Homo sapiens: one gene and its partner. The gene in region 1 interacts genetically with each later gene. Each region holds a gene or a part of one and is shown on either strand. Other genes may lie near its edges.

What was found. Genes that interact genetically often act in the same process or in processes that back each other up.
Region 2: of SNCA (region 1) and PRKN, changing one suppresses a phenotype caused by changing the other (phenotypic suppression), as found in Homo sapiens cells (2 studies listed by BioGRID).

Annotation. Positions count from the first base shown.
Region 1 is NC_000004.12:89,723,581-89,729,181, forward strand, and holds the end of SNCA (alpha-synuclein), read right to left. Parts: intron 3,081-5,601; coding exon 3,048-3,080; 3' UTR 519-3,047; downstream 1-518. UniProt on the Homo sapiens protein: Neuronal protein that plays several roles in synaptic activity such as regulation of synaptic vesicle trafficking and subsequent neurotransmitter release.
Region 2 is NC_000006.12:161,346,881-161,352,768, forward strand, and holds the end of PRKN (E3 ubiquitin-protein ligase parkin), read right to left. Parts: intron 3,332-5,888; coding exon 3,219-3,331; 3' UTR 537-3,218; downstream 1-536. UniProt on the Homo sapiens protein: Functions within a multiprotein E3 ubiquitin ligase complex, catalyzing the covalent attachment of ubiquitin moieties onto substrate proteins. Substrates include SYT11 and VDAC1.

The DNA of each region.
Region 1 (5,601 bases):
AGATTACCAGTTTGTTATAAAAGGATACAACTCAGGAACAGCCAGATGGAAGAGATGCACAGGGAAAGGTATGGGGGAGGCGTGGGGAGCTTGCATGCCTTCTCTGGACACACCACAATTCCCAGCACCTCTGCATGTTCACCTATTTCAAAGCACTCTGAATCCTGTCTTTTAGGGATTTTTATGGAGTCTTCATCATGGAAGCATTGTTGCTTATTAACTCAATCTCCAGCTCCTCTTCTCTCCCGTCCCCAGAAGATGTGAATGGGGCCAAAAGCTTCAAGCTTCTTATCATGGCTTGACCTTTCTGGTGACCAGCCCCCATCCAGGAACCCAGCAAGAGTCACTTCATTAGAAGAGAAGATGCTACTCTCACCCAGGGACTAAGGAGCTCTGTCAGAAAGCAGAGTCAAAGACCAAATATTAGAACAAAAGATGACCCTAGCACCCCTACTACTCAGGAAATTACAAGGGTTTTAGGAGCTCTTTGTAAGAACTGGAGGCAGAAACCAAATACATATTTTCATATATGTATATATTTATTATGTCACAAATAGCTACATACTGGATAAGCCAGAAAGATGAGGAAACATGTTTGCATCTCACACTAGTGCAGAGATTCTGAAAAAGACCCCACTTGGAATACCAAACCACACATTAGATTGTTCTGTTCCCAATTGTGTGCCAAAGTGCACTCTGAACTGTTTTGGTAAAGCCGACCGTGGAGTCATATGAGGCTGAATAACTTGGGAGAATGTAAGTCTGCAAAATAAACCTAGGACTGGATTGATCCTCAGGCCACTTGGCAGGTGAATGTCTCGGGAGTGAATATGAGACAAGCTTCCTGAAAAGGCTTATATGACTTAAAGAACTTTTTGTTTAAGTGTTTGGTCCCAAATAAACTATTAAGATATATAAAGTAATTCACTGCTCAAAAATTACCGTCAGATAAATATTAAGGGAAGAAACACTTTAAAGGAGAATTTGTATCCACATAAATCCTTAAATTCATGGTCACAACTTTCCTAATCTCAAATTGTTCTAGGTCACTGCTATCAGTCTAGTTCTGTCCTCTATTTCTTAATTTAATACCAATACTTTTAAATTTTTAAAATATGCTGCTTTAGGTAGATTTAAAATATATCCTAACCGCCACTTTCTAACCTTCCTGAAATATACTGTTCAATAACAAATCCTTTCCTTGCTTAAACATAACTTAAATAAAACAAGAAACTTACCATTTCTCTCTAGTGTAAGATGACACATGCAGCTTAGCACTCTGTAGTAGTCTCTCTTCAATTAGGTAAAAAAGGAAGTTTCTATGGTAACCATCCTTATAGTCACTCATTCCTCCTTCCTTCCTCACCAGCGCCCAATATATATCACATTACTCATGAATACATATAAACTGCTAGCATGTCTAGAATATTCTGTCTTGAAATTATACTTTCTACTAGTGACTTTTAGAAATGACTATGCCCCAGAATAATTAAAAAGAGAAACCAAATAATTTTTAAATTAATTTATACAGAGTTTTTCACCATCAAGTTTATTTTCAGCACCCATGGGGAGTTAATAGATCTTCCCTGAAAGAGAAAAACCTTTCCTAAGGAAAAATCCTAGAATTCATATATTTGGCAACATTTAAAGGAGGCCATGAAATTTTTATCAGTCTAGAGAATTGATCTCCTTTAAGGTGACTCTGGTAGTTCCAACGATGTTTAAAGGCATTTCCTGTAAAAAAAAAAAAAAAAAGAGAGCGAGAGAAAAAGAGAGAGAGAGAGAGAGAATTTCTGATGATTAAAAAAAAAAAGTGAGGAATGCTGAGTTAAACAAAGTTAACCACATTCTCTCAGAGCCTTGAATGTGCTAATATGTGCTAATGTGTCTTATGGCTCTCTAAGGAGGGTGTAGTCAAAATCATCTTCTACACTGCTTAGTTCCCGGGAACCCACTTTTTTTTTTTTTTTATTCATGGTCGAATATTATTTATTGTCAGAAAGGTACAGCATTCACACCAATATCAGACAAAATAGATTTTAACTAAAAAATTATTTCGAGACAAAAATAACAATATATGTTAATAAAAGGCTCAATTAAAAATGTATAACAATTATAAACACATACACATCAAACAACAGTTCCCCAAAATACGTAAAGCAAACATTGACAGGATTGAAGGGAGAAATAGACCACTCTACAATAGTAGTTGGGGTCTTCAACACCCCACTTTCAATAATTAATCACAGCCACTTAAGGAACCAGTGCATACCAAAACACACTTCTGGCAGTGTTGCTTCAGGGAATTCCGAGTGTAGGGTTAATGTTCCATTTTCTCTACCTCTTCTAAAATTCCTCCTTCTTCAAATGGCTATTAATAACTTTATATTTTTGTCCTTTGTGTCAGTTCTTAATTCATGTTGCTTATAAGCATGATTTTTATTATTAAAGTGAGATGGGATAAAAATAAAATATTTTTGCAATGAGATAACGTTTTATTTTAATTCTCACCATTTATATACAAACACAAGTGAATAAAACACATCGCAAAATGGTAAAATTTCATATTTAGTATTTATAGGTGCATAGTTTCATGCTCACATATTTTTAAGTATTATATATATTAACAAATTTCACAATACGTCATTATTCTTAGACAGTATCATTAAAAGACACCTAAAAATCTTATAATATATGATAGCAAATCACTAACAACTTCTGAACAACAGCAACAAAAAAATAGTGAGGATTTAGAAATAAGTGGTAGTCACTTAGGTGTTTTTAATTTGTTTTAACATCGTAGATTGAAGCCACAAAATCCACAGCACACAAAGACCCTGCTACCATGTATTCACTTCAGTGAAAGGGAAGCACCGAAATGCTGAGTGGGGGCAGGTACAGATACTTCAATCACTGCTGATGGAAGACTTCGAGATACACTGTAAAAACTTTGAGAAATGTCATGACTGGGCACATTGGAACTGAGCACTTGTACAGGATGGAACATCTGTCAGCAGATCTCAAGAAACTGGGAGCAAAGATATTTCTTAGGCTTCAGGTTCGTAGTCTTGATACCCTTCCTAATATTAGAAAAATCAAAAAGACAGCACACACTGTTAGTATAAGTTTCAATTACGCATCAGCACTGACAGCCAATGAGATAGGAAATGGCTCCCCACTTACACTAAAATTTACAATCAATGTTTTTGCAAATATTCTGCAGCAAATATTATCTTATTTTTAATAGTTGTGTCTTTCTTGTCTGATATAAAAGTGAATTACAGTAGTAGTCAGAGTTAAAATATCTAGGTTCTGATCCGGATGCACCATTTAATGATCATATACCTAGTTTGGTAGGACAAATAAGTTGGACTGTCTGGTTCTCAGTTTCTTCACCTGTAAAATGTGAGAACAAAATCAAGCTGTCTATAAAGCCTTTTCCAGACTAAGATGCTCTAATTCTCAGAAGGAAATTAAGATGTTTGAAGGCAAGATACATTTTCCCTACTTTCACTCTCCCAGTTGAAAATTTCGTCTTCATCTATGGCTTCAATTATTACTTGTATTTCAAACCTCAAGCTCTCCATACAGTATCTGGATAGCATCCACAACACAAATATTAATGGATTTAATTAAAGGGATCAGATTATTCCTCCTAAAGAGCAACTCTAATAATATCAGGATTCTGCTTAAAAACAAACAAATAAGCATAACTTCAATAACTCAAGTTGTTTTCTGAATAGAATACAAGCTGAAATGACAAGATTATCCTAATACTCTATAACTTGTCTTTGACCCATAGCTGCAAATTCAATCTATCACCATTTTCCTTGTTCCTAAGCTTGAGTCATAATTATTCACTGTTCTCAGACATATCCATTTGCATGCTCAGACATACATGCCTTTGCTTCTGATATTCCCTTGTGCCAGAATGTCCTCTGTTTGTTTTGACCTACTATATCTCTTACCTTTTCCCACCCAGATCAACATTACCTCCTCAATAAAACTTCTCCTGATTGATTGAAACAGATCTTTAAAATGTTTTACTTTTTAGTATGTCTTATATATTTTTGCTCCTGTGATGCCTGGTACATCGAAGACAATCAATTATGTTTGTTAAAGGAATCATAATGAAGAAATGAATGAATGAATTTCTATTTTTTTTCATCAAACCTACCAGACTGTAAACTCCTTATGTCCTGGTAATGTCAATTACTCTATAGTTTTCCATTGTGTTTAGTACTGTGTCTTGCATAAAAGACCCCAAAATATTGGAAATTCTTATTAGGCAAACAAACAATTTAATCTCAATTTCTATAAGTTGAATTATTATCAATATGCCTTTCGTGTGTCTGTGTGAGACAGTCTTGCTCTGTTACCAAGATTGGAGTGCAGGGGTGCCATCTCAGCTCACTGCAACCTCTGCCTCCTGGGTTCAAGTGACTCTCATGCCTCAGCCTCCCAAGTAGCTGGAACCATAGGCGTGTACCACCATGCCCGGCTAATTTTTGTATTTTTAGTAGAGATGGGGTTTCACCATGTTGGCCAGACTGGTCTCCAACTCCTGGCCTCAAGTAACCTGGCCACTTTGGCTCACAAAGTGCGGGATTACAGGTGTGAACTGCTGTGCCCATCCTCGACATGCCTTTTAATAATGCCGTGAGGAATAATACATAACCAAACTACAACATACTTGAACTCAATTTTTAATGGAGCCATTATATAGTTTCTTTTCTTGTGATATCTTCATTTGGTTTTGATTATCAGGGTAATATTGGTCTCACAAAATTAGTTGGGAAATGTCTCCTCTTCTGTTTTGTAAGAGATATTAATTGGTGTTAACTAATTAGTATTAATTCCTCTTTAAATGTTTGGTAGAATTTACCAGTGATGCCATCTCGGCCTGGGATTTTCTTTGCAGGTAGGTTTTTTTTTTTATTACTAATTTAATCTATTCGCTGTGTTACAAATCTATTCAGATTTACTGTTTCTTCTTGGGCCAGTTTTATTCATCTAACAGTATTTTCTAATTTCCCTTTTGATACATTTTCTATTAAAGATACTTTCATTTTCAATCAAAATAAAATTAACAATCATATTGTGTTGTTTAAAACATTATACTGGAATATATCAATTGTCGCAAATCATGCATTTATCTTTTTATTCTATAACTTGTGTGGGTAACTTTTATTTTACTATGCGTCATCCCATTGGACATGTATGGCAAAAAATAATAACCTTCCTTTGGCATTCCATTGATTTCCCTAACTTTCCATTTAGAAATTTATTTTAGAATGTAAAGTTTCTAAAAATATATTCTCTAATGCAGGGGTTAGTAAACTTTTCCTGTAAAGGGTCAAGTAGTAAGTATATTAAGCTATGTGGACTACATATGATTTCTTTTACATCCTTTCTTCCTCTTCTTCATCTTCCTCCTCCTCTTTTTTTTTAAGGACCCTTTAAAAATGTAAAAACTATTCTTAACTTGCAAGTTGTCCACGTAATGAGCATGTAGAGAGCAAATGATTCTCACTAAGCACTAATGAAAGAGAAATGTGACAATGACAGGTTTTTGGTACTGTCTTGTTAGAAAGATTCAGC
Region 2 (5,888 bases), on another chromosome or scaffold:
CTCGGAATGTTCCATTCCAGATCCCTCCACCATGGGCTCATTGTGAAATAAACAATGCATGGCCACTAAAGCAGTTCTTTGAAAATGCAGCGTCAACACACCCACATTGACAGCAATGCAAAGTCACTGAAATTTTCTAGAATGACATGAGAAAAAATCCTTATAGATAGTCTTTTCCAATGCAAACTTCTCTTTTAAACACTTTTATTAGAAAAGTTTGCTAGTAAGGCAGGAAAGTAACTTTTAGATTTTTATGAATGAGGGTTTGCTTTTTGGAACCCTTTCAAATTTTGATAGCCTTAAAAAACTACTCTTATTTAACAAAGAGAAACAGCCAGCGGTAATCTGGAGCTTGGAGTTGATATGAGAATGGCTATTTCATCACCAGGTAATTCCTCCAGGTCACTGAATGGCTATTTCATCACCAGGTAATTCCTCCAGGCCACAAGTGAGGCCCATGGAGTAATACAGCCTGTGATTCCCTCCGTCACCCTTCACATTGATTGAAAATGTATCTTCAAAGACAGACTCAGAAGCTCTTTTGATGCTTTATTGACAATTTAAGTACAATCTTAGAGTTGTCAGATAATCTCAACACACTTCAGAGAAAAACAGACTTTTTCTGCAAAGACTTTATTTCTATTTTTTGATACATTCATATTTTGTTACACCCTTCCTGTGCAAATAATACTGTGATTCATGTTCATGTGTAGTGGATGATCTTGCTTTTTTGTTTTTGTTTTTTTTTTTTTTTTGAGACAGAGTCTCACTCTGTTGCCCAGGCTGGAGTTCAGTGGCGTGATCTCGGCTCACTGCAACCTCTGCCCCCCGGGTTCAAGTGATTCTCCTGCCTCAGCCTCCCAGGAAGCTGGGATTACAGGTGCCTGCCACCACGCCCAGCTAATTTTTGTATTTTTAATAGAGACGGGGTTTCATCATCTTGGCCAGGCTGGTCTTGAACTCCTGACCTCGTGATCCACCCACCTCGGCCTCCCAAAGTGCTGGGATTACAGGCATGAGCCACCGCGCCCGGCCTGCTCTAACTTATTTTAAGAATCACTGTTCTATTCTGGAAAGGGAAAAGACCACCACCAAGAAGGGAAAGGAGACCATGCTGGACAGCCTAATAGTCTAACAGGGGATCCTAGGGTGCCTGAGCTCATGGGAGCAAACCTTGTTCAGGCACCGCAAGCCCAACGCAGCATGCAGATTGGGAAGGCGCAATAATGCAAACACCATCAGGAAGAAAGCTATGGATGATGGAAAACACTGTGTGCTCCACGTGACAGAAGGGAGCCACCTGATTTGTCGCATCGGGCCAGTGTAAGGAAGTGTAATTTAGTGGGACTGCCAGTGACACTAAGTCAGGCCTTGATCAGGGTCTGGACTCAGTATGGACACGAGCCACTGGGTGCAGGGGGCTCATGCCTGCCACCTCTCTTTTTTTCCCTTACTATAGAGACTTTGATCTGTCCACCATTTCTATGTGAGCTTTGGGCTTCCTGTCACAGGTCTGTTGTCACCGTGGGGCCATGTTGGAGTCGGTAGATTTTCAGACAGTGAAGCCACATGAAGCTGTGAATGCTGATGTGGCTGCTGCAGAGCCCAGTCTCTCCCCGGTGCAGGGCCTCTGAGACGACGGGACTGTCCTCAGATGGTTGGAAGAAATGGGTTATCTTAGGCAGTTAGGAAAAGAGGGACAGGTGTCCCAGGATGTGGAAAACTTGAGTTCATCCCCTCTCTTCCCTCCAGCAAGGATTTCAGTGCTACATCTAAAAAGAGAAGCCCTGTTGCCGATTTAATAATTTACAGTCTCTAAATCCAAAAGGGCCTCCATGTGCTAGTGAGACTCATGCCCTCAGTTATGTTCACGATCTTCCTGAGAAGTCAGACAATACAGGTAGAACAAAAGATAGTGGTTGTACTTTCTCTTCTGCGTAGTGTGGGTAAGAGCATGCGGTTTGCCGCATGCAGTGTTGTTAATCTTTTGATTGTGTTGTGAATGGCTGAAAAAAAAGCTGAAAGTTTGATTGAACTGAAATCCAATCCATGTCAACATAAGGAATATTCTAGTGAGTTTACTGTCCTAAGAGAAGGTCTCTCCTGGGGAACCCCTGGTATGCAGAGCTCCCTGGGACTTGCAGATTGGACAGAGAGGGTGTGCCAAAGGGGTATAAACCCTTCTGATGGAGAGAGTCGGGCGTGTCTTCATTTTGGTAGTTCTGGAAAGGCTCCTCTTTAAAGATTCTGATTTAATAATGTTCACTTTTGTTAAGATTGAATATCATTTTGAAATCATTTCTAAACGTGTTTCCTTTATAGGCACTTTATCTATTAAATTTACAGTGGAGCCAAATGTATTAGCAAAATCTCCAAGTTGCAAAATGAATACTCAGAATCAAACTATAGATTTTTTGGTGATACTTTCAGAAAAACAATTTCTTTCTAAAGTTGCAAATCATGAAAGGGAATGAAAGTACATTAACTTGATTTCTTCCCTGTAATTCAAACATTCAACATTCAAATTAACTTTCATAATTTCTCACTTTGTGACAAGTTGATTTACGCATAGTTGGTATTTCATTAATGCGATTTATATAGATGGAATTCTTAAGGATAAACAAATGTTTTTGACTATTGCCTGGGGTTCTTTGGGAATAGATGCTTTCTGAAAATTTAAATAAGAACATTACTGTTAAAGCCATGAATCTAGTTTGGAGAACCCACTGCAGTTCATTTTACAGAGAAACACCTTGTCAATGGCATCTTCATGGTGTTTACTGAAGGTAAAAGGCAGGATATTAAATGTGAGAACTCTCTCTCCAGCTACTGATTCTGCCTGTCTCGAATTCAGGTGAGAATGACCCATACAGATACATGGATTGCACTTGAATCTGTGCTCTGGTATTTGTGTCATCCGGAGGCTGAGAACGCCTGTTGGTGGTGTCGCAGATGGCTCTGCTGTCTTGTGTGGACAAACTGAAAGGGATTCAGGAGCTTCTTCTGTAATTTTACTCTGCTGTTTTTCATGGACATAGTGAAAGGGATCCAGGAGTTTCTTCTGCAATTTGGCTGTAGTTGGACTTTGAAAAAAACTTGAAGAGTGTGTGTGCGCGCGCGCGCGTGTGTGTGTGTGTTTGAAAAGAGAATTAGAAAATGAAGGTAGACACTGGGTATGCTCCCCCAGGATGTGGCGATGGGGCGCCCGGCCGCCCTGGCTACACGTCGAACCAGTGGTCCCCCATGCAGACGCGGTTCCACTCGCAGCCACAGTTCCAGCACCACTCGAGCCTGCACTGGGGCTGCGGACACTTCATGTGCATGCAGCCTCCTGTTGGGGGCAGAAAACAAAGGTGTGGTGGGTTCGCAGCAAGTACCTGGAAAACACGCATTCCCAAACCAGCACGCTAGCCTAGACATCACTTTCTGAGCGAATAATCACAAGCAATACAAGGGCAGAGAGAAACTTAACTGAGGGGAAAAACTTCATAAAGCACAATAGGGCAGCTCTAAAGTGATGATATTCATTAAGAAATGAATGAAATTGAAGCATGTCACTTTTGTCGGGAACAAATTTTATTTGTAAATCTGACTTTATTCTCCTGAAAGGGGATTTAGAGACAAACACTTCATGTTTCATAGATAGGGGTCAATTCCTCATTTAAATATATTCAAATATTAATATATTTATATTTAAAATATATAAATATATTTTTATATATTTATATTTAAAATATATATATTTTTATATATTTATATTTAAAATATATATATTTTTATATATTTATATTTAAAATATATATATTTTTATATATTTATATTTAAAATATATATATTTTTATATATTTATATTTAAAATATATATATTTTTATATATTTATATTTAAAATATATATATTTTTATATATTTATATTTAAAATATATATATTTTTATATATTTATATTTAAAATATATATATTTTTATATATTTATATTTAAAATATATATATTTTTATATATTTATATTTAAAATATATATAAATATATTTTATATATTTATATTTAAAATATATATAAATATATTTTATATATTTATATTTAAAATATATATAAATATATTTTATATATTTATATTTAAAATATATATAAATATATTTTATATATTTATATTTAAAATATATATAAATATATTTTATATATTTATATTTAAAATATATATAAATATATTTTTATATATTTATATTTAAAATATATATAAATATATTTTTATATATTTATATTTAAAATATATATAAATATATTTATATTTAAATATATTGATAAAATTTGATGATATAACCTAATATAATGTATAATAATTTAAATATATTTTGATTTATTTTTGCTCTTTCTATAGTGCCACTTACTTGGCTTGGCCAAATTCATAAAACAGGAACTGGGATAGCATATTGTAATTATTATTATTTCTATTTTTTTTTTTGAGATGGAGTTTTGCTCTTGTCGTCCAGGCTGGAGTGCAGTGGCGAGATCTTGGCTCACTGCAACCCCCACCTCCCAGGTTCAAGTGATTCTCTGGCCTCAGCCTCCCGAGTAGCTGGGATTACAGGCGCCCACCAACATGCCCAGCTAATTTTTGAATTTTTCGTAGAGACAGGGTTTTGCCATGTTGGCCAGGCTGGTCTCAAACTCCTGACCTCAAGTCATCCTCCCGCCTCGGCCTCCCAAAGTGCTGGGATTACAGGCGTGAGCTACCGCACCCAGCCAGCATATTATTTTTAATAGGGAATATGTTCCTTAATGCTATCCAAAATTTTAATTAAGATGAGAGGGATAGAAAGGAAGTAATTAATAATGCTAGGTGTTCTATGTATATTATCTCATTTGCTTCCCAAAGCACTTTGAGATAAGAGCATCACTCTGCTATAGAATTTCCCCAAGGTGAAGCACTTTTAAATGGTGAAGACAATGATCTCACCAAGGTCTGTGTGATTCCAATGTCCTGTCATTCACAGAACAGGTTATTTTCAGCATAAGAGGAAAAGTCCCTTATCTTGGAACTTATTTTGGAATTATTCACCTCCCTCACTTGTTAAACATAGACTCCATGAGTTTCTGGAGTGCACACAGCCCTGCTTCAGTCGCTGTGGGGGAACTGAAGGGAGGAGGAAGTGATTTGTATGAGGATGTACAGAGAACTGTTTCTGTCCAAATTTCCTGGAAAACCCCGGCAAACGCAGTTTCTTTGCTTGAATCCCACCTAGCGTTGAAGGTGCTCCATTACTCACTCTTACCAATTATCTTGTTAATTGATTTTTCCTGCCAAATTTTCCAAGTAATTGGTTCGGTGCTGTCTCACTTTTATTATTAGAAACCTGGCATGAGAACTTTCACTAATTTAAAATATTTATGAATATATAGGAATAGGCATTTGTTTTAAGATAACTTGCCGACATGCAAAATCTCCTGTTTTCCTAATCCTTTCTGGCTTGTTTTAAAGATCATAAATTACAGATCTGTGGAAAATAAAGGAGAAAACTTACAACACTTTTATCTTCATACTTTCCACTTAGGTTTGTGCCATTTTCAGCACATATTGCATGGTTGTATATTTATGATGTAAATAATATGTTATATGGTGTGACATTATAAAACCACTTGTTTCTCTAAAATATCATAAATATTTTATCATATCATAAATATATCATTATTATATCATGTATCGTAAAATATATTCAATCAAAATTATTGAGCAATACATTAAAACTTAATGAACTATTAAAGCAATTCTAAATGAAAGGGTAAGAAACTTTCCTATTGTGATATTTAATATATATAAGCATATATAAACACAAATATGTATGAAGAGTGTGTGTGTGTGTGTGTGTGTGTGTGTGTATATATATATAT